7 linked regions of the Homo sapiens genome follow. The protein of the gene in region 4 interacts with the protein of the main gene of each other region in a biochemical or structural test. Each region holds a gene or a part of one and is shown on either strand. Other genes may lie near its edges.

The links.
Region 1: the proteins of SNTG1 (region 4) and CD46 interact in a test that uses a peptide from one of them, tested with the Homo sapiens proteins (one large-scale study listed by IntAct).
Region 2: the proteins of SNTG1 (region 4) and OR8G1 interact in a test that uses a peptide from one of them, tested with the Homo sapiens proteins (one large-scale study listed by IntAct).
Region 3: the proteins of SNTG1 (region 4) and GPRC6A interact in a test that uses a peptide from one of them, tested with the Homo sapiens proteins (one large-scale study listed by IntAct).
Region 5: the proteins of SNTG1 (region 4) and CLDN14 interact in a test that uses a peptide from one of them, tested with the Homo sapiens proteins (one large-scale study listed by IntAct).
Region 6: the proteins of SNTG1 (region 4) and CNKSR2 interact in a test that uses a peptide from one of them, tested with the Homo sapiens proteins (one large-scale study listed by IntAct).
Region 7: the proteins of SNTG1 (region 4) and DACT1 interact in a test that uses a peptide from one of them, tested with the Homo sapiens proteins (one large-scale study listed by IntAct).

What each region holds. Positions count from the first base shown.
Region 1 is NC_000001.11:207,750,886-207,754,853, reverse strand, and holds the start of CD46 (membrane cofactor protein isoform 3 precursor), read right to left. Parts: upstream 2,801-3,968; 5' UTR 2,642-2,800; coding exon 2,545-2,641; intron 1-2,544. UniProt on the Homo sapiens protein: Acts as a cofactor for complement factor I, a serine protease which protects autologous cells against complement-mediated injury by cleaving C3b and C4b deposited on host tissue.
Region 2 is NC_000011.10:124,239,925-124,243,894, forward strand, and holds the start of OR8G1 (olfactory receptor 8G1), read left to right. Parts: upstream 1-1,170; 5' UTR 1,171-1,440; intron 1,441-3,970. UniProt on the Homo sapiens protein: Odorant receptor.
Region 3 is NC_000006.12:116,794,835-116,798,083, forward strand, and holds part of GPRC6A (G-protein coupled receptor family C group 6 member A isoform 1 precursor), read right to left. Parts: intron 1,002-3,249; coding exon 878-1,001; intron 1-877. UniProt on the Homo sapiens protein: Receptor activated by multiple ligands, including osteocalcin (BGLAP), basic amino acids, and various cations. Activated by amino acids with a preference for basic amino acids such as L-Lys, L-Arg and L-ornithine but also by small and polar amino acids.
Region 4 is NC_000008.11:50,789,407-50,792,906, forward strand, and holds part of SNTG1 (gamma-1-syntrophin), read left to right. Parts: intron 1-3,264; coding exon 3,265-3,423; 3' UTR 3,424-3,500. UniProt on the Homo sapiens protein: Adapter protein that binds to and probably organizes the subcellular localization of a variety of proteins. May link various receptors to the actin cytoskeleton and the dystrophin glycoprotein complex.
Region 5 is NC_000021.9:36,477,323-36,481,413, forward strand, and holds the start of CLDN14 (claudin-14), read right to left. Parts: upstream 2,801-4,091; 5' UTR 2,173-2,800; exon of another isoform or gene 52-2,172; intron 1-51.
Region 6 is NC_000023.11:21,377,418-21,380,917, reverse strand, and holds part of CNKSR2 (connector enhancer of kinase suppressor of ras 2), read right to left. Parts: intron 1-3,500.
Region 7 is NC_000014.9:58,636,636-58,640,761, reverse strand, and holds the start of DACT1 (dapper homolog 1), read right to left. Parts: upstream 2,801-4,126; 5' UTR 2,560-2,800; coding exon 2,215-2,559; intron 1,926-2,214; exon of another isoform or gene 1,500-1,925; intron 1,350-1,499; exon of another isoform or gene 1,271-1,349; intron 27-1,270; coding exon 1-26.

The sequences.
Region 1 (3,968 bases), on a different chromosome or scaffold from region 4:
CTTTTGTTTTCTTCTTATCACCACTACTCCCTACTCCCATTACCCTCCTTCAAAATGAACGTTTTAATGATCAGTGAGATGCAAGACTGAAGTACTGGAAGCCCTGCAGAGTCAACAAATAGGGGAGACAGATCCTTTCTGGCTCTCAGCTGCCACTGCCCTAGCTTTTTAGGTACCGCAGAAAGACCATCCTGAGCATAGCTCTTTAAAGAACCTTCCTCTTGGAGGCAGGAGGAACTTTTTCCTAGGCTCTAAGCCCCAGCCAAATAGTATATTTAATTTTCTGGTATTTAACAGATACAGAGGTAAACAAATCGGGCTTTTGGAACCACAAGTGCGACAAGACAGACAGGATCCCTGCATTCTGACAGGGTGAGACAAAGAACAGAAAAGGTCATTTTAAAAGGGTGATTACAAGTGAAGAGGGACTTGAACTGGGTTGTATGTGTTCAACCTGAGATGGGGGGGTCGCGAGGTGGGGTGATCAGAGAAGGTCTCTGAGGGTGTAACATTCCAGCTGAGTTTGCAGAAGAGCGAGACTGTTTCTGCAGCAGGTCAGGAGGAGAATGTTCCTGGGCTGAGGGAACAGCAAGCACAGATGCCCCAAAGTCTGTTTGATGAGCAGAGAAGCCTTCCCTCTCTCCAATCATTTGTTAAATGCTGTCAGATTTATATCTGAAAATTATACTGCTTGCCTCCAGAGCACTTCCCTTGGTTCATAATTTATTTGTCACTATTATGTTTTGGATTTTAATGTCTGCCAATCCCAATACATTTTAGCAAATAATTTATTGGTTATCTACTGTGTTCCCGGCACTGAGCACTTATCATTGAGCAAAACAAAGTCCCTGCTTATCTTCCTGCATGAATGTGTGTGTAAACAAATAGTGAAAAAAGGATCAAGAAAATAGGAATGGTTTGTTATTGCCTACCAGTGTAATAGCACCAGACATACAAGACCCATATTCGTTGAATGAATGCTCCTAAGGAAAAAAATGCAACGTAGAAACTATACATGTTATTGGATCCTAAATATAATTTGGACATAGATACACATGACGCGCACATGAAGGCAGAAACAAATATGCCAAAATATTAAAAATAGCTGTCTTTTGATTCTGTTCGTATCGCACAATAAGCATGTATTTCTTAGCGGGTTTTTTTTTTGTTTGTTTGTTTTGTTTTGACAGGGTCTCACTCTGTCATCTAGGCTGGAGTGCAGTGGCATGATCACAGCTCACTGCAGCCTTCACCTCCTGGGCTCAAGTGAATCTCCTACCTCGGCCCCCAGAGTAGCTGGGACCACGGGCATAAACCACCATGCCCAGCTAATTTTTGTATTTTTTTGTAGAGACAAGGTTTTGCCATGTTGCCCAGGTTGATCTTGAACTCCTGGGCACAGGCAATCACCCCGCCTGGGCCTCCCAAAGCGCTGGGATCACAGGCGTGAGCCACTGCGCCTGGCCTAGCATGCATTTTTAAAAGTATTGATTCCATTCAATGAAATACAAAATAAATTTAGTGGGATAGGCCTTAAGCTTTAGCTTATGAGCTGCAGGGGAAAACAAGATTAACATTATCTGCCTTCCTTTGTTAGGATACTAATTTCTCACTAGGTTTGGCTACCATTGTTTTTTAGGTTGTTTCACATCTCTCAAATATGACTCAAAGTAATGAAAAGAAGGAAAACAATGTCAAAAAGCCATTAGGCAATGGAATCAGATACTATCTATATTGGTTGGGAACAGGAAGAAGACTCGATGGCCCACCCACCCCCCAAAAAAGCAGCCATTTACAAACTAATAGGAGCTCAGGTAACACGGAGACTGTTCACAGAAGGCACAAAAAGCATGGCGCGCCCTTACCACCTCTCTAACCCCAGGCACCGAGAGCCTGCTCTCACTCAACATGCCCTCCCTAGCCCCAGAGTCCGCGCTCACTCCATTCAAAGCAAACAGTTGAGCTGTCTTGCCCACAGTGAACTCTGCACACAGGCCACTTACGCACAGCACGCTCCCAGCAACACCTGGCCAGGCCCCTGCTCGCCCAGCCCAGCACATGGGGCACAGCAGACGCACTGCAACCCTTACCGCGGGTACTGTCCAAGCCCTAATGAACACCCCACTCACCAAGGCACCAAGGGAACACAGGGCAAACTCTCACCACGGACACAGCACGGGCCCTAGCAACACTCCCACGCACCTGTGCACTCCAGAACAAGCCCTCACCTAGGGCGCCCAGTCCGCGCTCCCCTGGCCGACTGGCTCAATCCCGAAAACACGATTCACGCTTTTTTTAGGGACGCAGCCAGATCCTGCGTAAATGCTGGCCGCGCACACGACGCCACCAAACAAGCTTCACCTCGGGCTCTGCGTGGTCCCCGCATTCCCCGCCACATACCCCCGGGATCTGAGCACTGCACCCCTCAGAGAACCCTGTCCCCAAACAGGCACGGCCTGCTGTGAGCCCCGCCCCGCGACTCTTGCCCGACTGAGGAGAGCTCTAGTCTCGCCGCGGACGCGCGAACCCGCCCCGGGGTCCTACCGGAGAAGGAGTACAGCAGCAACACCATGGCCGCCAGAAGCAACCCAGGAAAGCGCCAGGAAGGAAAGGGACACTCGCGGCGGCCGGGAGGCTCCATGCGCGGCGCGGAAGACGCTGTTATTTCTCCGGAGGAAAGCAGAGAAACCGAGAGCCAGCCGAGCAGGGAAGTCCCTTCTGGGTCCAGATATGGGACGCAACAATCCCCAACTCACAAAGCATCCAGTGCTGCAGGACAGGTGGGCGTGGCCCGAGCCGCGCCCGGGGCGGAAGTGCGTCGAGTCACCAGGGCGGCTGGGGCCAATCGGCGGGCCGCGGGGCGGAGCCTCGGCGTTCATGGGCAGCCCTTGGCCTTCGAGAGGTCAGGGGGAGGCCCTGGCGGAACCTAACAGAACAGGTTCCCCGAGGCCGCCTTTTTTCTTGCTAAGCCCTTGGCCTACCATCCCGGAAGCCTGAGGCGTCCTGCGGGAAAGGACTGGCTCGCCGTCATATTTGTGACCCAGGCAGGGTGGAGAGAAAACTAAGCTGCTTTGGTAATAGTTTCCGGGAATTCGGGAGTCAAGAATAAAGCACTTCGACCTAAAAATAGAGATCCAGAGTCTAGACAGGGGGTCACCGTGGGCTAGCACCCCTCAGGGTTAGTTTTATCCTGGGGCACTGCAGGCTGTCAGGACTGCCTGGGCCCTTACTTGGTATTTGGCATTAGTCAGGCATTATTGGGAACAATATTTGAGTTTTTCTTGCTTGAATGCCTGCTACTGGATCGTCTCGGGGCCGTCTTGTTTTCACAATCTCAAAGGTTTGGCTTCTGCACTCCCAGCCCCTAAGGTAATTTGCCCTTTGCTCCCCTCCCTGGAGGGGACCCTTCCGAATCTAATTTATTAAGCAACACCAGGCAATTAGAATATTGAGACTCTATGGGGCCCTTGCCCTTGAGCAACTAAATTTTTTATTGAAGACGAAATATACATGCATGAACAATGTAAGGACAAGGGTGTCCTAAGTGCCAAATTCCTGGAAGCAATAAATGCAGAAGGATTCGGATGGGTAGAAATTGTTAGGTGAAGAGTGGATAAGGGGGAGAACTTTTCTGGTGAAACAATCTGAGGAACAATACTGGAAAATTAAGAATGAGCAGGATTGATTTGTAGGATTGTGAGTAAACCGGAATGACCGGTAAAAGGAAAAGGACATGACTGACATTAAAAGAGCAAACAAAGAGTTGACATTTCTTCCCCTCAGATTGGCAAAGAATTAAAACGTCAGCCAATGTGAGTGAACGTGTTGCAGGGGGACCAGCACTCTGTAACATAACTTTTCAGTATGTTAAAAGTCTTAAAGTGGACATGACTTGTGTTAGGCTCTCAGTTCCCAGAGAAATCATCAGAGCTGTGATCAAAGCTCTGATGTGATCAAAACTCTGATGT
Region 2 (3,970 bases), on a different chromosome or scaffold from region 4:
TGTTAGCCTGCAGCAGTCTCTTTTCTGCCCGATTCAACTAACTAAACTTGTCTTCCTTATTTCTTCCATTATTTTTTTTTTTTACTTCAGAAACCTATTCAAAACTTTAGAGTCAAAGTTGCAGACCCACGTGTGTGTTGTGATTGTACACTCCAGTATGCCCACTGCTTTGCCTTTTACTATTCTAATTTGTGCTGCCTGCTTATTGTCCAATGTGCCATGGGCTGTAATCTAGGATGAGATTATGAAAAAAAACTCCTTGTTGATTTTAAATGTGCAGCCATAGTAAAATCACTGATCTAGACCTACTTCATTCTCTTTAAAGACAATCAAACCTAGTGTTTTGTACGATTTTTCAGAGCTTCTAATATGTAACTTCCCATATAGTCTTTTTCAATTCCTTCATTTATTTGATGCACATTCAATATAAAATTTCATCTAATTTTATTTTGAAGAAAGTGAAAAACCATAAAAAGTAAGAAGTGGGGCACTTATATGGACTTATATGGAAACTAACTTCTCCAAAACTTAAATACTTTCTTCAGTTATAAAAATTAGGAGGCAGAATTTAAATCAACAAAGAAACTCAAAAATTAAGTATTATATCAATCCCTAAATTATTACACCATGCTTCCTGAAATACAATTATAAACAGATTTGAATTTTCAGTCAACTATATAAATTACCTATTTACACACAAATTAAAACTAAATATGTCTATTTGCAAGGAAATAAAAAGTGTGTTATTTTAAAGTTTTTAACTTTATTATCAGTACAAGATAACTTGTCAGGATGTGCCTAGTCCTCTCAAGTATATTAATCACAGTGTGTGCTGTGAACTAAATTACATTAGAAGCATGTAAGAAATGCAGAATTTCAAGCTCCACTCAGACCTATTGCATTAGAATCTGCATTTTAGCAGAGATAATCCTTGTGCACAAATATTTACCACCAATTGACAATTTTAAAATTGACAGGGAATTCGTTTACAGGAAAATTAGACAACTGGGGAAATGTCAAGTGTAATTGCTGGTTTTTTCCAAGAATTTGGTCCCTGAGAAATGGAAATCCCGGGAGAGTATTTGTCTCCATGTTTTTTGGTACCTCGCATATCTTAACCCAGGGCAAGCCTTTATAGCACAGCAATCAGAGCTGCTCAGGTGAGGATGCTTGCCACCCTGAAGCTGGAGAAACAAAAACTGCAAAGTCATAATTAGAAATACTGACCTGTGATGCAGACCAGCTTCAAAGTGACTCTGAGACTGAGGGCTGGGCCCTGCCCTCTCAACACTAAAGATTCCAGAATGCTGGGTGTCTATGACTCTCAACACCAACATTAATGCCATGTCAGGAAGAGAACATTCCAAGCCAACATTCTCCATGTCAGGAAGAGGAAATTGCAAGTAAAATCAAGCATTGAAGTTTTTAGGCAGTGGAAAGGTGAGTGTTTTCATCCATCACTTGTGATTTGAGACTATTAGATCTGGAAATAATCTTTGCAAAAAATCAGGAAACTATTATTCCTCATTATCTTTACTTATTCAATTATTTATGAAATGCTCTTTTAAACCCTCTTCAGTGGGCCAGCCACTTTGCTAGTTACTAGAGATACAGAGGAGAATAGCTCGGGTCCATCACTGGGCTTATAGAATAACTCAGTCAAAGAAAATGTGCTGTCTGGAAATCAGAGTTTTTGGAGCTTACAGTAGGAAGATCAACTTAATTACAATAAACTGGACAATATTTACATGATGACTTCATTTTAAATGAGATTTGAAAAGTAAATATTTACCAGACATCAGAAAGACAGGTGTTGGTAAGACTATCTAATGTAAAAGAAATAGCTAATGAAAAGGCTCAGTGAATGTGACAGACTCTAGGAACTGAAAGAAGCGAAGTGTTCCTGTAGCCAAGGAGGAGGATCACAGGAACTAAAAGTGAAGAGGGACAAGAGATAGCATGAATCTGTGTACTTTATCCTAAGTGTAATTAAGGCAACCTGTTCATCAGTGTCCCTGAAAGTGAATCATCATCTGATTTCTGGTCCAGTGTATTTTATGACCAGGAATAAGTAGCTCATTCAACTTCTAAGAACTCAAATACTAGAATATTTTCCTTTACATTTATTTTTATTTTTTTTCAGTAGTAAATTATTTATATATTTTTATTATTATTATACTTTAAGTTTTAGGGTACATGTGCACACTGTGCAGGTTAGTTACATTTATTAAAAGATGTATTCATAAATCTTTCAAATGCCACACACAAAATTAAAGCTTATCCTTGCTCTTCTTAGGATACATGAAAATGCTCACTAATTATCTCATTGCCTGCAAATATTTCCCAAGCTCTTGACAGCTTTTGTGTGCCTTCCATCTTATCAATGTCTTTCTTTTAAAAATATATCCATTGGAAAACGATGGACTCCAGGTGTAATATGATAAGTGTGGAATGGTGCTTTCTAACCTCATGAGCACATAGAAGATGGTCATATTAATATGGCATAATGAAGTTACTGGATGAGAAAGCTTGTGGCTGATGGTGACCAGTGAACTGGCTCTGAATGCCACAGTCTTATCTGTGAGAACCCGAGGGCTACAGACCAATACCTCTGAACCATTATGAACCTTTCCCTACATTTCAGTTCCATGGCATATGAGTTGGAAGCTATGTTACAGATCTTACATGGATTGCTAGTCATCATAGTCTAGCCATTATTTTTTTTATAAATGAAATCTGAATCTCCCCTTGCTTTATCCATCATCCACTATTCTATGGACTTCATTTAGTTAATACAGAAGTACACTTTTATGTTTTCTTATGAATTGTATTCAAACCAGATATGTTGTACATAAAGAATTAATCATTTAAACTAAGACTGGAAGTTAAGTATTTTTCTCACTCAATTTTAGCTTGTTTTTTTTAGCTATTTTCAGTGTCTAGAACCAACCACATTTTGCTGGTTGTCATAATATTTTAGGACTGAAGTTACAGTAACTTGGGAATATTGTTAACCAAAGGGTGTGTGTAGACCATACCATGGGGAATTGTCAATTCCCAAATCCATGTATAACTCACAAAAAGAAAGTTTCACAGTTTAATTCCATAGAACTCTTCCCAGCTGTAATCCCTACTATGATGATTACAATTAAAGTAATCAAAAACGTAAATGACTAAAAAAGTAGAGAAAAATGCTTTTGATATTCATGATGTTCAGTGACCTTACCTTATTCTTTGATATTATATAATTTATAACCCTACTTAGCTGGCTTTGGTCAGACCTTTTATTGCTACTGTCATATATACCCAATTTTTAACACGCAGGAGTAAACATAATAGACCAGGAGCCCTATATTTTTTATTTGTTCTTGTATTAACAGAAGACTATATTTTGTGTACATGTAAAGTATTTTTCAGAGCCTCATATTGATCCTATAGTGATCACATGAGGACACATAAATAATAGAAAATACATTTTTAAATGTATATATAACAGAATAGCTCTGAATTCGTTCGGGAAACCATTCAAAAGTTGCATGCCTCTCTAACTTTACTTCAGTTATTGAAATAATTGACACATCATCCCTTATTATGGTGAATATTAGACTTAGTATCAAGTCTCTACAACAGTATTTCTCTTCTTCTTAACACAGTCCTGTTGGGTTGTATAAACAATCAATTCACGTATTCATTGTATTGGCTATTTCTTCCAGTTTTATTTTATCTGTACATTAAATGATCACTCATTTCCATTTTAATCTTAACTAAATTATTGAAAACATTGTTAACAGGATAGAATTAGATTGAGAGTTCTATTAAAGCAGGGAATGTGTCATTTTACTTTTCATGCATTTTGGCTTCGGGTCAGTATTCGACCCCTTGTCTCTCAGTAATGATGGCTGAATAAAAGAGCGAGCTAGAATAGGTGCAGCAAACCACCATGGCACATGTATATCTATGTAACAAACCT
Region 3 (3,249 bases), on a different chromosome or scaffold from region 4:
CAGGTTGGAATAAATGGCATTTTTTGTGTGACACATAACAGAACATGAATCTTGGAATATTTTCATTGGTATACTTCTCTTCTTGAAGCCAGTAAGCAAAAAGAATAGGCATTTGGGGACTATTCCAGTTCCGGAGTTCTCAGCTTTTCTACAAGATGAATGGGAATGCTCTAATAAACAACAACATCTGATGCTTTTAAATTAGGCTTAACTCCAGGGAAAGTGCTCATAGTTTCTTTTTAGGCTCCTAAGGCTGCTGACCTCACTCTTGTACTTTAATTTGTGTATTTTGCTTTCATTTTGTGAAATTTTTAAAGATAGGGTTGGCAAACAGTCATTTACTAGCATCTCATCCCTGTTGATAGTTGGTCCCTTGTCTCACAGAAGTTTCTTTTAGGTTTAACTTTTGTTTCCTGGTAGAAATAATAAAAGTGCCAGGATGTGCACACCTGTTTCTTAACTCCGGGTGCCTCTGGGTTTCTATTATGTTTAGTTAATTCAACATTTACTTATTTGTATTTTTTTTGTACCTCAGTTACAAGCCAAGCACATCTGTATAGGGATACATGGACAAAATTGACAGAGAACTTGCATCACTTTAAGAGTTGCATACTTTAAAAAATATGAGCGAAGCGATAACATTTTCCCTTGGAAGTAAAGTAACTTTTACATCTCTATTATTTATTTGCTGTGCACCTGTTGACATAATAGAGCAAATTCCAAGATAAAATGAAATTTCACTGGAATTTAATTTCACAGGAGCATGGGAAGCTTTTTAAATTTTTTCAAATGAAAAACAAACCAAAATAAAATTCATGCAAAGAAAAAAAAAGCCTAAGAGGAATGATTCAGGTGTATGTGGAGTGACTGTGATTACCTGTCTGATTAGTGTAATGATTTTCAGGACAGTTCTGACATTCATAGCAACAGATGTGTTGACTTCTTGTAGTTTTCTTCATTTGCCCAGGACTGCATTCCTTGGAGCATTTAGATTGAATTTGCTATATTAAAAGTGAAAAAAAAAATCACAAGTAAATTTGTAAAAAAAATTATCCTAATCGATTATCCTCGGCTTAACTTAAAGATATATTTACTAAATACTATTTTGGTCTTTTTTCATAGGATTATAGAATCTTTTTGCCATCGTGGGAAATGTAAACAGGATTTTAAGATGGAGAAGCTGCTTTACGAAGAACACAGTTTTTGTTGCATTAATAACTTCTGTAAGCAAATTATGGAAATTAGCCCTTTCAGAAAGTCCCTAGTAGAGGGAGAAATGTGTAGTACTAGAACTAAAGAAAATAATGACGGTTTGGAAAGTTTCAATCCCATGTTGAATGAAGGGTTCCACTAGATAAGAAAATAGCAAATGGCTAGATTTTTATAATCTTTGAAAGAAAGTTTTTATCATGCTGTCAAGGAGCATGTCCTGTCTAACTCCAAAAAATAAAAAAAAAAGAAACATTTTGAGTTTAAAATAAAATTTAAAATTTAATACTCTAATTTAATATTAGAATATTAGATTTAAAAGACAGGCCTAAATATATACTATTTAAATAATCTTGAGAATTCAAGTTATAATTTGCATGTCACAATTTGAATCACTGCAGCGTTCTACTTTTATGGAACCGTAGCTGGTAATTCTTTGCATTTCAGCTATGTTATTCTCCATTCATAGTCCCTTTCTCACAGCATATCTTGTGAGAGAAATCTGCTTTGTCATGTCACTTTTACCCTTGGAGCAGAGCAGAATGGTTAAATGAGTCTTTCTCAAGATTCTCTTATCCATAATTTCCTACTCTGGAACACAACTGAAGTACTAAGCTATCCAGTCTTTCTCTGGAAGATGCAAATGATCTGTCTGAGAGAGAAATGAAAAGATTCAGTAGGCCCTGGGTCTGCAAGCACTGGTTTTCTTCTTCTCTCCAGTTATTGCTGACCTGGGTTTTCAGCAGGCAGTATATATGCCTTGGGAATTCCCCAGGGCAAACTTTTAACGTATCTACTCTCCTGGAGGGTGCTCAGAGGACACAAAAGGATTTTATTTATTTATTTATTATTATTATACTTTAAGTTTTAGGGTACATGTGCACGATGTGCAGGTTAGTTACATATGTATATATGTGCCATGCTGGTGCGCTGCACCCACTAACTCGTCATCTAGCATTAGGTATATCTCCCAGTGCTATCCCTCCCGCCTCCCCCTACCCCACAACAGTCCCCAGAGTGTGATGTTCCCCTTCCTGTGTCCATGTGTTCTCATTGTTCAATTCCCACCTATGAGTGAGAATATGAGGTGTTTGGTTTTTTGTTCTTGCGATAGTTTACTGAGAATGATGATTTCCAATTTCATCCATGTCCCTACAAAGGACATGAACTCATCATTTTTTATGGCTGCATAGTATTCCATTGTGTATATGTGCCACATTTTCTTAATCCAGTCTATCATTGTTGGACATTTCCGAGATAAAGCCAGACATTGTTAGGGTCCCCTCTCTCCCTCTGATCAAGAGCAAAGACAGTCTAAAATCTTGTACTAATTACTTTAGATTTCAATTGATTTAGGATTATCTGATGTTTTGGACTATGAGTTCTGGTGACTTACCAGAAATGTCAATACCCTAACTAGCCTGCAAATTGACAAATCCGGAAATCTGACCTAAATGATTTCAGATATTGTTGGTTTTTACTGTATCCTTGAAATAATTATAGGTGTCTCCATCAGAAAGGAAGACTTGTCTCTCTGTTTGTAGTGGTCAGCCTCTTCCATTTAGTCACTAAGAGCCTCACATAATTACCTGTCATTCTGTCACCTTCTCTTCATTAAGTGAATTCCCTACAGAGTCTGGAGATAAGTATTGATAACAACAGTGTTTCTTGCAAAAATAATAACCATCTCTGCATTCAAAAAGGAAATGAATCAGAGCATGTTTTAAAAGTTTCAGTATGAGTTACAGTGTTTAGCAGAGTGCTGGGTTCGTAATGTAGTTGTGAGGATAATGGTAAGGAAAATGAAGATGATGACAGTGAAAGTTTGAGAACACAGAAGAATGGCTACGTTTCTGTCTTTCAAGGAAGAAGTATCTTGCTTTACTAAAACTTTTACAGCCAGGGGAAATCAAATTAAGGAAAATGGTTTACAGCATTACTGTGTTCATTCTTTCATTCACCAAATATTTGTTGAGTGCCTATCTATATGTTAGGCACTGTTCTAATTGTTGAAGCCACAGTGGGGAATGAAACACAAAT
Region 4 (3,500 bases):
ACACCTTGATCTTCTCATCCAGACCACAGTGCTTTACCTACCATCTATGTGCTGACAGAAGCTGAACTTCTATTCTGAACTCTAATTTTTCCCTTAAATCCACACTAATATATGCAGTTCTCCACTTATCACCTATATGTCTAATATGCGTTCAGATGTAACATGCCCAAAACCAAAATCTTGATCTTTACTTCCAAACCTGCTTTTCCCATAATTTCTCCATTTGCAGAGCAACACGTTTTTTCCAGTTATTGAAATCTACTTTCAAATTCAACCCCTTTCCATATAGAAAACTTTGTAACTTCTCCTTCTTTCAATCCAATTCTCATAAAGCTCATTCTCAATAGTCTAACCAGAATCATCATTTTCTGACTTTTGTCAATGCCTGTCACTCCTCTGCTCAAAAATTTCCCATGGTTTCCCATGTCGCTCATAGTAAAACTCATAAAGGCTCATGCAGCATGCAAAGTGTTTTCTTTGATCTCATTGTCTGCCAAGTACTTCTTAATTCATTCCATTCCACACAAAATAACCCTTGCTTTTCTTCTGACTCTCCTGGAATGTCCCTATCTCTGGGCCTTTAAAATTATAATTCTTGTGTCTGGAATATTTCCCCACAAACATGGAAATGGCTCACTCCATCTTCCCTTTCAAGTTCCATATACAAGGCAACATGAATTTTCCTTCCCACGGCCCTTTGAGTAGTCTTTGCTGTCTCCTCCGCTTTATTTCTTGATGGTAACTGTCATATTCTGACATATTGTCCTTAATTTATTTCTGCCCTTAGTCACATTTTGCCTCCTGTCACTGGAAAGTAACTCCCATCAGGACTGTTTTGTTCCTTTGTTTGTTTTTGTCTGTTTTATTCACTGCTATCTTTTAACAACAACAAAAAAGAGTAGATGCATAGGAAGCATTTGGTATTTTATTGAATGGCTGACTCTTTACATTTTTGAAGATAGCTTATATTTAGTGATATCTGAGGGATCATGATGATCATAAGACTTTTTTTACAAGGGAAACTTGTAAGTCTGTGACTTGGTGGAAGCTGTCGGTGGATGGATAGATAGATGTTCATCATCAGTGGATGTTTGATAGGTGGTAAGAATGCAGGTCTAGTACTCACATAAGAAATTAGTAAATGAGCAGTGTGAGTTTACATAAAAGGAATCGTTGACACCCTAGGAGTGGAAATGGTTGCCAAGGCTGATCACTGAGGCAGAGGAAAGATGTGTGGGCATTGTAATGAAGAGTCAAACTTGGATCCATCTTGGTCTCCTGCTTTCTCTTCTAATCACCTGCTATTATTTCCCGTCTACCATTACTTCAAAATGGGTATAAAAAGTTTAAAGTGTCAATCTATATCAAATTATTGATAAATAATTGACAAGGTGGGAGTAATTGAAAATTTTTATTTTTCTAAAGATGCCTGGATACTTAGATATTTAAGGGTTGTTTATTTTTGGTAACCAAAATATAACCTCTATTTTAATAAAGAGATGGCAGAATTACCTTTGAGAAAAAGTTATTTGCCATACTATTTTCACCCAATTGTAACACTCAACTATATTCTCCTCCTTACCAAGAATGAATTGCTTATTTTTGTTGTTGTTGTTTTATTTTTTAATAACATGCAAGAACATTTTACATTTTCCCAAAATTTCCAAACCTTTCACATTAGGTGGATTTAATTTGGGAAGATAGAGAAAGTATTTAAAATGTGTTTGGGAAATAAACTGGCTACACCAAGCATTATGGGGTGAATGGAGGATTTCCAGGGTGAGTTAAGGCAAAGAGAAACTTGCTTATTTACAAATAACATGACTAGTGCCACTGAAGCAGATTATTATAAATAAAGCTTCTAAGATCATTATGATGGAGTTACTAAAAACTTTTTTGGTGGAAATATCTAAGGGAATTAGAATAGTTAAATGAATAACCTCTTCTATTCTCTAGGACAAGTTGCTATTTCACAAAGGAAACTATCAAATATTGAAGGTTTCAAGGGAGCTACTGAGAAAGCATAGCTATGTCTTCTATATTATAGGGACACCTGAATATATATTATGGGGTATCGTACTCCTGTTGCATGACCTGAGAAAATACTCCTCGGATGAATTATTTTATTTAAATAGCTGTCTGGTACACGACAGATATTACAATGTGTCATAAAGTATTGAATATTTTGTAATATTTTCCACTGCCACATGTAAGTTGTAAACACAGTCATGTACATATCAATTATAATTCTAAATTCTTTATTACATATATGTAGTGAAATATATAATAAAATAGCAATGAGTTTGTCAGAAATTTCATATGCTTTATTACCCTCTAGTTACCCTCCTTGTGATAAGTTCATCGTATTGATTTCATTAAGCACACAAATGTATTAGTCTTTCAATCATCTTGAAATTAAGACATGTTTATGTGATTATTGATGGTCTTTAATAATAATACTAGCAACATCATCTTTCTAAATGTATTCTGAGCATAGCTTTAAGATTTTATAGTTATTTTGACAAAATTATGGTTTGAAATAACTTTTTCTGTTTTCACTGCAATATATATAGTTTGGTTGCCACTGGTAATAAATGGGTTACAAATTTCCTTTGGTATTTAAATGAGAAACCTATTTCTAAAAATCCAAAATGAATTAGTGAGCTCTAGTTTATTTTTTTTTTTTTTAGTAAATATGCCACATAAACCATTAAACAGCCAGCCACAATTAAAATTAATGCAGGAATTATTTTTTGAAAGTGAACCATTTGGCTCCTCTGGTTATAAGAGTTCATATCCCCTTACTTCTAGCATTTCTTATTCAGTTTCTTATGGCAAATATTAACTCATTCTAGAGAATACTCAAGAATAGTTTTAAATTGCCCTAATCCATATTTATCATCTGATGTGTGCACAAAGAGATAAAAATACTTTTAAAAGTACTTCCAAGTTTATCTTTAATTGTACATTATCAAGAGTAAAATTTTGGCAAAATATATTTATCAATCAGTGCTAAAAGAACATTCATAGATGGTAAGAGTGATTAGTCCTCCTACCTCTTATCCACCATGTATTGAAATAAATTTTCACTACTTACGATGTTTACACGTTGACCAAAAATGTCTACATTTGAAATTAGTTTCCACATGTTACATATCATAGATTCTAGATAAGTGTATTGAAATTGAAAAAAAATCTAGCTATTATAAATTTTTAAAGACATTAATTTTTATGTTATCTGACCTGTTTCTCTTTCCCTTTCAGGAGTTGGAATTTTCTAATTTATTTGCTGTTCTTCACTGCATTCATTCCTTCTTTGCTGCCAAGGTAGCTTGTTTGGACCCTCTATTTTTAGGCAATCAAGCTACTGCTTCTACTGCTGCCAGCTCTGCTACCACGAGCAAAGCAAAGTATACAACTTGACATACTGAACTCTTCATTGACACACCCCATGACTGTATAAGCAGGACACATTTACTCATCATTTTAGACCCTAGAGA
Region 5 (4,091 bases), on a different chromosome or scaffold from region 4:
TCTTGCAGTGTTCTGTAGAATCGAAAATATGGTTTCATATGTTTACTTTACCTTCATTTAAGTGTAGCCCTGATGCCTCTGCGAATATCTGCCATGGAAGAGCCTTTTAAAAACAAAGCTCTTGCTGGTCTCCAGTGCCCAAGAGTGGCCGCCAGTGGAAACAGACCTGGTGTTCTAAATCTCAGTTTTTGTTTCTTTCTTCTTCCAAGAAAGCTGTAGATGAGCATGTGCACTTCCAGGCCTAGAAGGGAACAGCTGCCTCTGGGTGGCTCGCCTCTTTGCACAAGGGGCTCAGCTCAGAGCTTCCCCTAAGCCTGGCAGGTCCCCCCGACACTTCTCTTGGGAATGAAGTGGACAAAGTGAGTGAATGAGCCTCAGCTTCTCCTGTCTTTTTATAGAGTCACCCGACAGGGAGAGATAAAGGAGGTGGTAGCAGCTTAGGCCCAGGAGCCCTCTCAGCAAATGGCCCAGAGTAGAAAATTCCCCACACTATGTTGCTGTTGGTCACCCGGTGAAAAGTCCCTGGCCCTGGCAGCCACTTGTCCTGCAAATGGTGCGAGTGAAGAATCCACAGATTAGCTGGAAGGAGGAACGTTTGAGTTTGAAAACGCCAAGAATCATTCCTGAACTGGCAAGGCTGGCCACCTGCGTTTTAAAAACACATTGGCACTAGCCTTGAAAACAGACTTTTAGACTTCTTACTCTGCGTAATGAAAGATCTTTTCTGATATATAGGCAACAGAATGATTTTTTTAAAAACAATAATGGACATATTCCATTTTATTGATCTTTACCTAAAAACTAAAAACTAACTGGAAAACAGGAAATATTTAATAGTGACATTTTCATAGCACCAAAGGAAGAATCTACGTGTCTTCCTTTTTATAGATTTTTCTGTAGATGTCTTAAGAAGCATTGAACCCTTTATACAGATGGGTAAATAAAACACAGTAAGCTTGAGATATGCAAATCAGATTGGAGCCAGATAAGGATGGGGGCTGGCGCTGGCTTCAATTCTGACTAATCTTGGGCAAGCTGCTCAGCCTATTACTCACTGTCTACACAGGAATGACTGTCTACATAGGAATAGCTCCTCTGCAGAGACATCTAGAAGATGCTGAGATAATATATGTAAAAACTGACAAGCCCTTTGGGACAGATACCAGCAAATGCAAGGCGTATGCTATGGAAGTTTTATCATCCTAACAGATAAGCCCGTCCCCAACTCCAGTGAGTGACTGAGAGACACGGGCATGAACGCTGAGCTCAGATGACAGCATCTTTTCACAGCAGACCTGGGCCCAGCCCCTGGAAGCACACGATGATGAACTGTCCTCTGGTTTCCCAAGACTTCAAAAATGAAACCCAGTGATCAAGAGATGTTTGGCTTTGAACACTGCGGGAATTAAAGCCAGCACCCAGTTAAAGCCAGTGAGGACAGCACTCCAAGGTTTGGGGACGGTCTCAGGACACTAATCCTGGTTCCTTTTCTATTTTGCCTGGGTCCCTCCTGCCCATCCTGGGAAGCCGTGGCAGCTGTTGGGGATGTGGGGCCCCAGGTAACTGAAGGATTAACTCACGTCTCAAATTGCATGGCATTTCTCCTCTTCAGCACCATTTTTTACCCTCATTGAGAGAGATCTATCACTTCCCCCCCTCTCCTGCCATGCCAATATGTGTCTGTGTTGGAGGGCAGGGGTGTATTTAGGGAGCAGGAGAATGTTCCCAAGTCTGGAAACTCGGAACAGTCTGCCTGGCCCTCTTTGCAGAAAAACGAGGGAGTCCCAGCAGACAGAAGGGGGCAGTGGCGCTGAGCTCCCCGAGCTGAGCTGTGGCCTCAAAACACTGAACAGATTCAGTCCTTCCTCCCAAACAGGCCTGGTAAGCGATGAAAAGAGTTCTGCCCAAACACTCAGGAACTGGATTATTGTCGTTCCTGGCTCATTAGGAGCCTGGCTGCCCTCATGCCAGCTGCGTGGGGTCCTCTGGAGGCCACCCAGACCAGCCTGCAGCTTCCTTTCCTGTAGGGGCCAGCACGGTCCCTTCCTCTGGAGAACGCTCGGACCCCTGGCTGCATGCACATCTAACCGGCAGGGCCTAAGGGCTTCCAAAACAGATGACTGTCAACCCCAGCCCGCCCACCCCACATCCACAGCTTCACCCCAAACTCACATGCAGAAAACCTCGAGTCTCATCTTCCTGTTCAGGTCCCTTGCCAGCCGGAGCCGCTCTGGAGCCTGGCTGGACTCCAGCTCCCATGTGCAAGAGGACTCAGCCGGGACGCTGCCACCCTCCTGCCTTCCCTCTTCTGCCAACCAGACGCTTCCAGGACGGAGTATTTGAGAGAAAATTGTCTAGACAATTACAGTGTTCCTTAGAATGGCCTGCGTGGGCACACGTGCCACTTGGTTAGCTAGCATGAGAGGAGGTGGCTTGGCCAGAGCAGACATTCAAGACCAACCAGAAATGTCATTTCTGCACTGTGGAAAAAAAATGCACGATACACCTGAACCTGGGCATCTCCTTCCTAACACGCGCTCAGGATCAAGCCTCCCCTTCCCAGCCTGGCAGGGTTGCAGGGCGTCCATAGTCCAGCCTACGCCTGCCCAGGCTCTCGGCTCCGGGTCCATTGGCTGTTCACACTCACTTCCCTGTGTCCTGGAACTGCCTGATTGTTGTAGATTACTAAAAATCCACAGCTCATTCCCTCCTGCGCCCTGACCACCTGCCCACAGCGACTGTGTCCTCCTCTGAGCCACCACCTGGCGGTTGTCCTCACACTGCTTTGGACTTTTCTGCTATTGAGTAACTCAGCTTCTCAGCCTTTAGGCTGCTATGGGCCCTAGATGCATGCTGGTCGATTCTGATCAACGAGCAACTGCTTTTGTTTGTTTGCTTTTTTCTACAGCTGCAGCTGTGGGTGATTCGGATGGTCTGTTGGTGGAATGTGGAGCTGGACGGGTCAAGGAGCACAGTGTGGAAAGAGGGACAATTTGCTACAAGTTGGAGATAAGAGACATGGCATACTGTGAAACCAGTGCTGACGGAAGAAGGTGACTTTCTTGGAAGGTCAAGACACTTGCTTGACAGCGATGTCCAGGAGGGCTAGGGAGAGTTCTGCTGGAAGTGAAGGCAGCACCTGAGGGTGGCTGAGGGAACTGGTCAGGGCTGGGAACGCCTCCAGCCCTTTGAGGAATGATTCGCTGATTAAGAGATGTTTGGCCTTGAAAATTGCAAGAATGAAATCTCTTGGTGGGAATGTGTAGCCAAAAGCCAGCACCCTGAGTGGCTCCAAGGTTTGGGGACCCTCTCAAGGCACAAATCCCAGTTCCTTTTCAATTTTGAAAATCGTTGTGGGCGATTCTGGAATTGAGAAGTGTGCTGAGAGCCATGGATTTAACATGACAAGAATTTCCGCCCCTTCGTCACTGAGCACACCGCAAATGCTCCAGGGCCAGGGACTTACTTGGGCTTCTGCGTGTCTTCCACAGTGTGCATCAATCCGCCGGGCTCTGGTTGGTGTTTAAAAAAAAAGATGCAGCGAAGGAATCTGGTGTGGACAAACGCCCTGGGCATGGACCAAAAGCCTGGCCCTTGTGTCCCTGGCAATGGGACGGTGAAGGACAGAAAGACAGCACATCCAGTAGTGTCAGGAGCTTGGAGCAGGCATTCGGAAGCATCTGTTAAATGTTATTGATGGAGGATTGACATAACCCACATCTGCATAGCTTTTTTGGTCTGTTTTTGGAAGTGAACAGTCACAAACAAAAACAACTTTGGTTCAGGTCATTTATAGGCCCAGATCCTCTATCCTTAGAGGTTTCCCACCAGATATACTATTTCACTATCTATGCCAGGAAAGTTACGTAAAACCACGCAGAATTTTACCTGACAACGAAATAGACCTTTTCGTTAGATCCTCCACCCCACCTAAAGCAGTTACACAGGCTGAAATGAAACTGTTAAAGGAATGAACTAACTTGGAGATAGAATCATCGCCTTTGCTGAACACCATTTTAAGAATATTGGAATATATAGGGGTACCAGCATAATAGTAAAATGTGCCCATATTATCTATAATTTTATGCTGG
Region 6 (3,500 bases), on a different chromosome or scaffold from region 4:
AAATTACTTTATACTCCCTTCCCCCAACCTTTTTTAAAATTAGTACAGATGATCCACTCTTTTAGTACTCTTTTTAGAAGCTAATAACTTTATTCTTCACAATAACCCTTATGTGTGAGGTACTGCAGGGAAGACACATAGAAAGCTAAAAGTCATTAAGAACAAATTGAGGCTGGGTGCAGTGGCTCACGCCTGTAATCCCAACACTTTAGGAGGCCGAGGCAGGTGGATCACTTGAGGTCAGGAGTTCAAGACCAGCTTGGCCAACATGGTGAAATCCCGTGTCTACTAAAAAATACAAAAATTAGCCAGGGGTGGTGGTGGGTGCCTGTAATCCCAGCTACTTGAGAGGTTGAGGCATGAGAATCACTTGAACCCAGGAGGCGGAGGTTGCAGTGAGCTGAGATTGTGCCACTGCACTCCAGCCTGGGTGAAAGAGCAAGACTCTATCTCAAAAAAAAAAAAAAAAAAAAAGAACAAATTGAGCCCTAATCTAGGGTTGCTCTGTTATAAATAAAAATGATAATTTATCATTGCTTTAAGAACAGTATTAATACTTAAAAGTCTATTTCCATTCTTCATATAAGAACTTGGTTCAGTAAAATTCGAAATATCTAACAACATGTTAATGATTTGTCTTCAAAATAATTTAACATTATTTTCAAATCATTCCTGAAAAACAGATTTGAAACAGCTGTACCAATTCAATACACATTCTTTGTGGGCTTATTTTTGGCAGCTAAAGTTTTATAATGTGGCATTTATTTAAACTCAGGACATGATGAGAGTTTTATTGTCTTTGTGAAATGCAGATTTGTTCTTGTACTTTTGTGCCACCTACTCATGCTCCTCCCTCACTTTCCCTCTACTGCCCACCTCTCTCCTTCATCCAGACAAACCTATATACAACCCCCCTTTAGTTAATAACCCCATTTCAACTCTAGAGTTTCTTGCTGTGCCGCTACATTTAGTATACATCCCTCTTAGATTATGCCTTAATTAAATAAGTAGCTTAAATAGTTGCTAGAACCCCACCCTCCTCACAGATCCCTTCCTGATTCAATAAAATTATCATCTTCTCTTTCCAATGGTGCTCATATACAGCCTTTAAAAAATTACTACATGTGCTAGTTGGCACCTCTCTCTGTCTTTGCCTAAGTTTGTCAATGTCACTACCATCCCTTACAGAGGCTAATTTCCCCAAAGCAGAGAATAATTAATTTAAAACAACCCATTAAAGCACCCTCCATGCAAAAGCACTGAGAAAATAATATCTATGGAGCAAATATATCTACATAAATATACTCCTTGTTCCTAATCTGCACTAAATCATGAGTGTTACATTAAGGAGCAAATGTTAATAACACTATAAGAAAAATAACATTTCTTCTGAACGAAATTCTACATATGGAAAAGATATATTTCTTCTTTACATAAAATGACAAGAATTCCTGTTCCCCAAAAAAGTCAAATCCAAAGTAGACAATTGTTGGTGCCAATTTAGTCACCTTTCAATTGAAAAAAAACCCTAAGTTTTCAAAAGGAAGTGATACAATTTGATCACTTAAGCTTATTTGCAGTTCCTGCCAGAAAATTATTTCCAATCTCTCTCTCAAGACAGTTTAACTCAAAATTTTGATATTTTCCTTTATGTAACAAAGACAAATTTCAACCTCAGCTCTGGGTCCTATGACGGGAAAAAAGAATTACTAAAGAGTATTGTACCTGTCAAAACATCTTTGCCTTATCCAACACATTCTCCTTTACAGCATTTAACTTTTATACTGACTAGACTTTATATAATCACTACATTTTCCTCTATTACAGGACTGTATACAAAACATTGGTTTTGCTTTTTATACCTAAAAGAATGTATTTTATTTTCTATCCTCAAGATGGCTGAGTCATCAGGACAGAAATTAGAAGTCAGAGAATGCCTCTTGAAGAAATGATTTATAGTAAACAGGAAAGAGTAGAGCAGTTGATTGTGGAATGGGTTGAGAAAAGGCTATCTTAAAAATTTAGATTATTTTAAGAATCATAATAATACAAAAGTGGCTGGAGCTAAATCACAGAGATGGTAAGAGAAGACAAGCAAAATGGGGCCTATTGGTTAACTCTGAAAAGTCATAATCATTTTATTTGACCCAGAGAGATTAAAGATTACTGGAAGAATGTAATGTAGGGAGCTGAGTCCTAGAAAAATAACTTAGTCATGTGGATATTTTGAATGAGTCTCAGAGTTGGAAAAGATGTAAGAAAAAAAAATGGAAAGACTGGGTGTGACACGGACTAGGAAAATTAATAATAAAGTTAATAACAGGGGCCCTAAAGCATTCAGGGGTTTTTGTTATATTTCAGTGGGCAAAAAAGTAGAGATGGTCTGGGGACTCAAATAACTGCAAATTATGAAATATTTCCAGGCCCTGCAAGTGAACAGGTAGGAGCTGAGAAATAACTTATTTTAGAATAACAGATGGAGGAAAAATTAGAACAATTATTGGCCTACTTTTCTGCCTATGGCTTTTTCCAATAACTTATTTGCCTCTATTTACCTTGAAAATAGTTTATGTTTTAAAATATAAAAACTACAAGAGGATTGGATGCAATTTCCAATTGAAGAAGGTCAGTTTCAAATGCTAAATTATGAGTATTTGATTTTCTCCAAAAATATTTTTATAAGATTAATATTAAAAATTAATTTGAAGGTCTATAAGATATCTCCAAATAGCCAGAAGTACTATCAGGATAATTTGGGATATAGCTACTTATTTCACTGACTCATAAGGAGTTCATGTACTTACTGGAAATAACATTGACACTGTGTCATATCCAATTTTTACTGTCAGTAGAAAATTTAGTTGAGTATTTGATTTTACAAATAATGAAGTTGGTGAGCAAAAGAATACAAGGATTTCCTTATATTTTTACTACTAACAATATATACATTTTATATTTCCATCTCCCTCAAATATTTTAATAAAAATTGATCAATCAAAATGAATCCATTTATACATTGCATCAAAATTGCAATGTAAAAATTGTCCCTCATAAATAATCTTGAATATATGCCACTAAAGCTTAATAATCTTGTCAGCTTTTTTTCCCCCTTCATTTCCCTCTCTGGGACTGAGTTTCTATACCACTTCTACAAATTGTCTAGAATCATAAATATATGGCCATTCCTATTCTTACACACTTAGCGATTCTTTTTCTGTTTAGTGAAGAAAAAAATACCCTAGAAAGTACATAAAGAATGTACCTTACTAAACAGAGTTACAACTATTTATGATTGTGACCAGCTGAAAGCATATACTATATGCTTTTAATGCTAAGGATGATGAAACTGTCTCATTAGGAGCATCCTCTGAAGAACTCCCACATTGCAGTTGTTCAACAGTCTTGTTCATTCTTTGGTACTGCCTTTACAACACTACATATTATACAACACTAAATGAGGTTTAGCCATCTCAAAGCTATAGCCTAAATTAGCAGTTGAC
Region 7 (4,126 bases), on a different chromosome or scaffold from region 4:
CCAGCATCTCTTCGCCTCAAACAGTTCTGATTAGGAAGAAACAAAGGAAACATGAACATACAGGGGTGACAAAAGAACCAGAAAGTCTACTCTAAGGATTCAAATTACCCATCTGAAGAGTTCACTAAACTTAGAAAACCAAAATTTTACTGGATGACCTGAAGTAACGAAAAACTTCGAGAATTCAAGAATATGTCCTATGTTTAATTCCACTTTCTCACATTTTGTGGTGATATAAAGTTTCTTCATAAAAACAAGACTTGTTTTTAGTTTCAACTAATATATACAAACTGACTTTTCATAGATAGGGACAAGAAAAATGGACTGAGACTTTAAATCATCTGGTGTATAACCAGTCTTTTAAAAAACAATACTTCACAGTAGACTCTTTAATTTGAAATGAGAGTAAGAGATTTCCTATAATACACTATAATCTTAGGTGAGATTTTCTGGCCAAATGTCTTGGCCTGCAGAGTTTTGTTTTCTATTAGTTGCTTTGTGGGGTTTAATCAGTCTTAGAGCCTTTGAAAGTGAGAAACTAATACTAATAGCCAGTGCCAAGTATAATGTGAGCTGGCAGAATCCAAAACCCTCATGGGAAGGCCCATCGAGATTTGAACGCCTCTGGGTTTCCAAAGGTGACAGATGGATTGTGCTAACTCACACTGCCACCTAGTGCTTCCTATTGCTGGAAAAACGGGAGAACTCAAAAAGCATCTGGTTCAAATCATGAATGCCAAGTCTACAAATGAAAATAGTACCATAAATACTGACTGGACTGGAATTCTCTTGACATACTGCTTTGCTCCCCTCAAGCGGACAATAGGAATGCGCCACTTACAATCTTGAGATTCATGCAGACAAAAAGGTGCAATTGCACAAAACAATAAAATGTAAAAGTCACCAGCCATAACCAGTGAGAACTGGCTCAAATGAATGTTACATAGGAATCTGGTCTGTGACCGAAGCAGCACAGTAAAATGCCAAAACAGAGATATTACACAAACCACAGTGTACATCCTTACAAAACACATGCATATGAATATCTACGCCTCTTGTCTTTTGACTTAAAAAGCTTGGAGACATAAATTGTATGTTTGTTTGCTACAATTAATTTCTTCAGGAAAAATGAACCTATCAAGTAAAAGCACTTTGGTGCTTAAAAACACACACACACACACAGAGAAAAGAAATGATCTGAAAAGAGATAATAGAAGAAAACACATGACAACTGCACAGCATCACCACTTTATTGTGGGAGGGCCACTACCTGGCATGTGTCTAGTTTAGATAGTATCACTTGGTCAGGTGAGGACGTTTGCTGTTTCCAAAACTACATTTTAAGGTCACTGAAAACAAAGCTGTCGCCATTATTCTGAGGCGGGGTCAAAAGCTGTTCATCAATACATTAAGCTACAAAGTTCTTTTTCTTCCCCATTAATGAAGACTGCATAGAAAGACTGAGACACTGACAGAAACCCAGTAAGATAAATGCTTACCGAGAGCAGGTTCTCTTTTCTCCCACCTCCACCACCAATCACAGCTGGCAGAACGTATAAAATATGAGAGGAGGGGACACAGTCTCCAGCCAAATTTCCATCATTTCCATCTAGTTTGAGCTGCCTTATACAAAGGGCTTCTATTTGAAATTAAGCACCAGCCTGGGTGAAAGCTGGCATGCTGGGGAGAGCTCTCGGAGAGGCACGGCTCCCTACAGGCGCTCCAGTGTAATCGTAAAACTCGGCCCTGGACAGTTAAGCACGCCACAAACCCCCTCCTTGGCTTTTGGCCCCTCTCGGCGGGAGGAGATAAAGTCAAGAAAACCTCCAAATAAAATGGTATTTTAAGTGGGAGTTTGCAAACCGCTGGGGAGAGGGCATATACTCATCTAACTAAGGAGACCGAACGTTAGAACTAGGCGACTCCAAGAATCCCGAAGGCAGAGGAGGAGGGAAGAGCGGCCACCCCCTTCCCGCAATCCGCGCGAGGTCGCCAGACACAAAGCGGGCACACGCCAGAAACGCGTGGGCGTCGGCAGCCCACACGCCGCGGGCACTCAGGAAGGGGATCAGGGAGGTATGGGGCGGTCGGGGGCGTCCCATAACAGCGAGCATCTCCCCAGCCAGAGTCAACCTCGCGCCCGCCCCAGGCCACCTGCCCGACCTCCAGCCCCTGGGCAGGAACAGCCGTGCTCCACCTTCGGGCACGACCTACCAATTGCTTTCTTAGCAGCAAGATGTTCTCCTCCAAGAACTTCTCCTCCAGGCGACTGCGCTGCGCCGCCTCCCCCAGTAGCTCCCCAGCGCGGGGCGCAGCGGCTCCCGCACCCCCGGCGCCGCGCAGGGCGCCCCTGACCAGCAGCTCTTGGCGCTGGCGCAGGTACTCCAGCTCCGCCAGCCCGGCCAGCGTGGCCTCCTGCCGCTCCCGGGTGCGCTGCCGCTCGGTGTCTGCCTCGCCCTTCTCCCGCCAGCGCCCCTCGGGCTCCGCCGTGCGCTGCTCGCCTCGGGCCGGCGCCGGAGGCTCCAGCTCCTTCGCCGTCCCGGCCGGACTCGGCTTCATGGCCCCCAGTCGGGCAGCGAGAGCCGTCACCGCAGCCGGGCCGCCCAGGCGGAGGAGCAGGGCGCTAGGGCTGCGGCCGCGGGTGGGCTCATGCCGCCCTGTGGCGGGGCGCGGCGCTGGCGGGGACGGTGGCTAGAAGCCCTCGAGTCCTGCGCGCGACCGCCGGCTGCTGCTGTCCCGGCCCGGGCAGCGCCGTCCGCTGTCGCCGCGCGTCCCTCGCCGCGGCCCGGCAGCTGATAACGCCCTGCCCGGCGCTACGTCACGCGCGGCGGCCCTGCAAACCCCCGCCTGGCGCCCGCCTCCCCGCGCCGGCCCCTCGGCTGCGACGCTTGCGCCCCCAGGCTTCCCCTCCTCTGTCAGGCGCGCCGCCCGGCCCCCAGAGCCGCCTCCTCCTCGCTCGGCCCTCCCCGCCCCTCCTCGCCCCTCCCCGCCTCCTCCCCCGCTCTCTTCGCGGGCCTCCTCGCCCCCTTTTCGGGTTTACTGCACCCGATTTTGCCCTCGCTCCTCATTGGCTCTTTCTCGTCGCCCAAAGCTCGGGGCGAGCGCCTGGAGCCCCAGCATCCTGTTACAGTCGGCCGCGCAGGCAGGGGCCGCGACGGGACGCGGCAGTTGGGCTCTCCGGAGAACTTTCTGAAACTCGACCAAGTTGCAGCACAGTCTTAACCCTTTCCCCACACGGCCACTCCTCATTTCCACTCACACCGAGTTAGGTTTCTTTCACTTCCCAAGCAAGGTATTGCAAGTGTATTCACAGACACTGTGGGGTTGGTTCCTTAACTCCACTTTGTAAAGGCAAGCAATACAGAGCACAATGCAGTGTTCTAAAACTTAAGTTTTGTTGTCGTTTTAATTTTTTAACGTCGGTCTTACGATGGACGGCATTTAAAATTAGGCAGGAGGATGTCGTTGTATAGCGAGAGGTTGCATCAATTCTTTTACAAGCCTACGATTTGAGTGCGCGCGCGTGCGCGCTTTGGTTTTTGTTTGAGCTTTTATTATTACTTAGTCTGCGTTTACAATAAGAGCTCTGACTCAGAAATCAGACTGTCTGGATTTGTATCCCAGTTTCACCCCTAAATAGCTGTGCGGGCAACTTACTCCCTTCTCTGTGTACGTTCCCCCCACTGTAAAAGGGAGCAGCTGCTATGGGAACCTGCTGTTGAAGAATTATAATAGTATGCAGCATATGCTATATATTGTGGGGGCTGTGCACTTACAACGTGGCTAGCACATAGATAGTAAAGGTGATATGAGTTGTAGCTTTTCTCCAGAGGGATTTATAAGTCTTCCCTCTTGAAGTATCATGTATTGGTCATCTCTGCTTGGAACACACTACTCCAGACCCCTATCCCACTGAAATTTCCGGTGGGATAGGGGTCTGAAAATTCCACTAGCTGGCTTATCTGTGGAAAAGTACCACATATATCTTTAAAAGCAGTACATCCAAGAACCTCGGAAATTCAATCCAGCAAGTCACAATTGCTGAAGTTCAGGCAAAGTGTTGTGTGAAAGAGTGCATCCTATATCATTATTTCAGACACTTGCACTTTTGCCCATCTGCTTACCC